Regions from separate parts of the Homo sapiens genome. Here region 2 is linked to region 1. The links come from fine-mapping of genetic effects on gene expression. Tissue or cell type: whole blood. Region 1 holds a variant in brackets; the other region holds the start of a gene. All regions are shown on one strand. Distances are between the middles of the regions.

Region 1 (2,500 bases):
AAAAAAAAGAAGAAATAAAAATAAAATAAAAGTTCTGTCTTTTCCATATTGATTCCTAATTCCTAGGAGGTTTTTTTTTTTTTTTTTCAGATGGAGTTTCGCTCTTGTTGCCCAGGCTAGAGTGGGATGGCGCAATCTTGGCTCACCGCAACATCTGCCTCCCAGGTTCAAGCAATTCTCCTGCCTCAGCCTCCCAAGTAGCTGGGATTACAGGTGCGCACCACCACACCCAGCTAATTTTGTAGATTCCTAGGAGGTCTGTATATTCTGAATGCTAACCCTTTATCTGTTGTGTATGCTGTCACCATTGCCACCTAGGCTGCTCCTTGTCTCTTAACTTTCTTTGTAATATCATTTTCATAGCAGAGGGCTTTTGGGGGGTAATGTAATAAAAATCGGCTGATCTTTTTTGAGTGTGTCTCTTGTCTAAGAAATGCTTTCCTACCCTTAGGTCTCCTACATTTTCTCCTAATTATTTTAAAGTTTTGTTTTTCACTTTTAGGTCTTTAATCCATCTGGAATTCATATTTATGGATGGTGTGAAGATTTTTCATAGGAAAAGCCAATTGTCACAACACATTTTACTGAAGTCTATTCTTTCTCACTGAGTTGCAGTGCCGCCACTATCATAAATCACATTCCCACATATACTTGGATCTGTTTCTGGGCACTCTATTCTATTGATTCCTTTGTCTAGCCCGGCACCGATACCACATTGTTTTAATTACTATCGCTTTCAAAAAAGTCTTGGTATTTGTTAGGGCCAGGTCTCTTTCCTTATTCTTTTTCAGAACTGTCTACTTTTTTCTTGGGTCTTTGCTCTTCTCTATGAATTTTAGAATCAGTTTGCCTAGCCCTGTGAAAAATCCTGTTGGAATATTTATTGGACCTGCAATGAATCAACAGATTAACGTGGAGAGAATCGTCTTCATAACATGGAGGCATCTCATACTTAACCTAATACTTCTCTATGGCTCTCCATTTATTACTATTGTAGCCTATGTTTTACTTCCTAAATATCTTGCAATGTGTTTTGTAATTTTTTTCTGGGTTTTGTACAATTTTAATTTTATTGTGAATGATTTCTTTTTGAAAGATACTACAATTTCTAATAAACTATTGCTAGTGCGTAGAAACACTGCTGAATTTTATATGGTTTTTTGTATTTGGATGTTGACATTTGTCCAGCATGACTTCACTTAATCACTCTAATAATATGCCCGTAGAATCTCTTGATTTTCCATATAAATAATCATGCTGTCTACAGATGTCAGAGACTTTTGCCTCTTATTTTCCTAACCCTTCTTTTTTAAA[T/C]TTTTTTTTTTGAGACGGAGTCTCGCTCTGTCACCCAGGCTGGAGTGCAATGGCGTGATCTCAACTCACTGCAACCTCTGCCTCCCGGGTTCAAGAGATTCTCCTGCCTCAGCCTCCTGATTAGCTGGGATTACAGGTGCCCACCACGACGCCCAGCTAATTATTTTTAGTAGAGATGGGGTTTCACCATGTTGGCCAGGCTGGTCTGGAACTCCTGATCTCGTGATCTACCCACCTCGGCCTCCCAAAGTGCTGGGATTACAGGTGTGAGCCCCCGTGCCTGGTCTTATTTTCCTAATCCTTCTATCAGTGAATGGTGGCTTCTAAATCTGACCTTTTCCAGCTCTTGGGCTGTGCCTGTGGGCTGGCCCTGGGCAGCTATTACCTTGCACTGTCAGTTATAAATAAATAAAACACCCTTACTTTCTCCAGAGCTTTACAGTTTGCAAAGCGCTTTCGCTTCCATTATCTCATTGATCCTTCTTACCCCCACTTGATGGAATGGGAGTGTCTGGGTGGAAACGGTCCAGGGCTCCGTGTCCAGAGATCCAGCTGTGCAGCCATAGTGCCGAGGCACCTCGGACAGTCCCTCCTCTTCTCTCTTACTCCTGTAATCTAACGTTTGGCCGGGAATGGTCCCTGGCATTCCAACTCATGTGTGATGGATTTGGGCGGTCAGAGGCTCACGGAACGCTTTGAGGGCTGAAATCCACCGATAAAAAGGCGGGGGATTCTGGGTACATTTAGGTCTCCAGGCTGGTATCCCAAAATGTCTGGGGGGATATGGAAATGTCCTTGGAAGTCGGAGGCTTGATACAGATGGTGGGATGGGTGGAGGTGGGATGGGGAAGAGATCATTATGTCCAGCCCCCTGCCTCCGTGCGGCTTCTCCTCCCCCTGTAGATTAGAGCGTTTTCTGGGTCGGGAAGGGGAGGACGAGATGGAGCTCGTGGCCTTGGGTTCCCTCCTGCGTCGCCCCCTGTAACTGCGTCCCCCAGCACGCACTGCTGACGCGCATCCCCAGCCCGGGGCGGCGCGCTCCGCAGGCATCCCGCCCCCGACTCCCGCTCCGTCCCAACATCGCGCAGGCGCAAGACCGGGCTGGCGCCAGCGAACGCGCCCTCTCGTGGCGGACTGGCCAGGTCGCAGTCTTTGTTGTTGCGCTGGAGGCGGCGTACGGGACAGG
Region 2 (2,500 bases), 30 kb before region 1:
GCGGAGAGTCCACAGGGCTGCTGAGAAGAAAGAGATCACACCGAGAGTGGGGCCACGGGAACTGGCACTGGGAACAAGGGCTTCCGCCGCTCTAAGTGACGCCCGAGGGTGGGAGAGAAGGGAGAAGCCCTTCGGGCAGGCGATAGGAAAGGGCCCCTGAAGAGGAGAAAGCGACAGAGAGAAGTGCAACTGGGAGAGGCCGGGAAGAGGTGGATGGGAAAGGAGACTAGCGGTCGGGGAGGCAGTTGTGGAGCCAGAGAGGTGGTCCCCCCTTCCCATATCGCCGGCCGTCCACTGGCCCCAGGCTTGGGGTAGTCCTCAGGAGTCGGGCACCCCCTCAAAGCACTGTTGGAGATGGGGTGAGGTTGGGGACAGGGCACCTACTCCACTCTCAGAGCCCTTCTCCCCAGTCAGAGCCCGGTGGCTAGTTTCTCTCCAAACCATCAGCACAACTCCCCGCCGGGCAAGAAAGAGTTAAGCCCTCTCCCCCTCCCCCCACACCAGCTTTTTATTAATTTCTCCGGGCGTCGGGCGGGAGGGAGGGGATTAGGGCCATAAATCCTATCTCCGCCCCCTCCCCTGACAGCCCGGCACCCCAGCCCCGTGCGGTCCCCCTAGGGATAGGGGAAGAAAGGCCCTTGTCGCTTAGCCCTGCCCAACCCCACTCAGGGTCCCACCGCGGGCCCGAGTGGCCCTAGCCCCAGTTCCCGGTCCACCCCAGGGCGCCCGGCCCCTCACCTCCGGCATCGGTCATCTTCAGCGTCTGGCGCCCCGGGAACCCCTCAGGCCCATGGTGCTCGAGGCGGGGGCCGGGCAGGAGAGGGGTGGGGGGACCGTCACCCCGGCCGCGGGGGGCTCCGGGCGGGCTCGAGCCGCTCCATCCCGGGGGTGGGGGTGAGGTCGGCGGGAAGGGTCCCAGAGCCGGGGGAGATGGAGGGCGGGGGATGTGGGGAGAGGGAACAGGTTCGCTGGAAGCAGGAGGCGCGGGCGGGGCTGGACCAGGAGACCTGACGGGAGGATGCTCCGTGTGTGTGTGCGTGTGCGTGTGCGTGTGTGTGTGTGTGACAGAGAGAGAGAGAGAGAGAAGAGCGAAGAGCGAGCGCCACCTCCCTCCCCGCCCCTGCCGCCCGCCAGGCCTGGCCGGACGCGGGGCCCCCGCCTGGCAGGGCCGATTCGCGCGGCGTCGCGTCGGCAGGGGTCCGCGGGGGTCTCCGGGGAAGGGGCGTCGGGGTGGGGGGCGCGTGGCGGAGAAGCCGGGCGCCCAGGAGACAAAGAGCGGGAGGGAGCGAGGGGGCGGGGGCGGGGGAGGGCGGCGGGGAGGAGGCGGCTGGGGCCGGGGAGCGGAGTTGCAGCTACTTCTCTGCCCGCGGGAGACGCGGCGCACCGGAGTCTGCGCGGGTGGGAGCGGCTCCGGGGCGGTCCCGCCACGGGACCCACGGGGCTTCCGCCTCCTCTGCCGGGTCCATCAGGGCTCCCGATTAGTTCATTCATTCAACAAACGTCCGCCGAGCAGCCGGGGCGCCGAGGCTGGAGGGGACAGCGGTGAACAGAACCCCCGCCCCCTAACTGCGCTCAAGGCCAGTGGGCCAGTCGGGGGCTCAGACGAGTGGGGAGGCCCTCACGAGCCTGGGCGCCATGGGCCCAGCTAACAGAGGGCACTTCTTGCCGGAAGGGAGAGCGCACCCCTGGCCCGGCCTGGGTCCAGGCGGCCGCGGCGGGAGCTGGGCTGGGGGATTCCCAGAGGATGTGATGTGTTGGCTACAACTGCGGGCCAGGGTAGGGAAGTGCCAGGGGGTGTTGGGGGTGGGAGGGCAAGAGGGGAAGATAAATTGAAGCTGGGGAGGTGCAGGGGGCTTGCACTTTATTCTACCAGCCGCCCACCCCGCCGCCCACACACACACACACACACACACACACACGCGCGCGCGCGCACACACACAAAATTAAGAGGAGGGAGGGGCTCAGGTGTGCATTTAGGAAGCACCCTTGGCTCCCCTGGAGACAGGGTTACAGAGGGCACTCTGAAGGCAGGGAGACCCGCTGGAGGCTATTGAGGGCCGGTGGCAGTGGGCATAAAGATTACAGATTAAGCTGAGAGCCCTTCAGGATGCAGGCCTGAAGAAGCTGACACCGAAGAAGCTGACAGGATTTGGGGACCTGCTGGACTAGGAGGTGAGGGAGGAGGGGTCTAGGATGGCTGTGGACCTTGGCTTGAGGCAGGAAGCCCTGGAGCAGGTGGGGGTGGGGACGGATGAGATCAGACTTGGACCCAGTGCGCTGATGGTAGTGGCAGGCCAGCCAGGGAGGCAATGTAGGGATCCACAACCAGCTACCGCACGTCACAGCTTGGCAGGTGCCAGGCGCTCTCAGATCATCTATTGTCACCCTCACAATAAACCCACAAGGTGGGTGTTTCCATTACCCACTGCCTCAGAGAAAACAGAGACTTAGAAGAAGGAAAGTGCTTTGCTCAAGAGCAAGTGGTGAAAGGCCAGGCGCA

Evidence for each region. PIP is the estimated chance that this variant, and not a neighbour inherited with it, causes the effect.
Region 2: it holds the start of SAMD14, and the variant in region 1 is the best candidate, but not a certain one, in a credible set for the expression of SAMD14 in whole blood (INTERVAL, PIP 0.72).

Annotation. Positions count from the first base shown.
Region 1 is chr17:50,159,220-50,161,719 of GRCh38, forward strand. It overlaps LOC124904025 (a long non-coding RNA gene), which reads left to right. Exons shown (of 3, transcript XR_007065841.1): 2 at 91-213; 3 at 503-1,138. It overlaps LOC105371818 (a long non-coding RNA gene), which reads right to left. Exons shown (of 4, transcript XR_934833.3): 3 at 1,802-1,929. Among named protein-coding and RNA genes, the nearest start is that of SGCA, 5.5 kb to the right of the region's middle. RefSeq lists silencers at 2,164-2,243, 2,274-2,500 and an enhancer at 2,269-2,500. The variant T/C (reference allele first, on the strand shown) is at 1,315.
Region 2 is chr17:50,128,779-50,131,278 of GRCh38, forward strand. SAMD14 (sterile alpha motif domain containing 14) reads right to left here and starts at 1,382. Exons shown (of 10, transcript NM_001257359.2): 1 at 739-1,382. RefSeq lists silencers at 1,098-1,157, 1,398-1,477.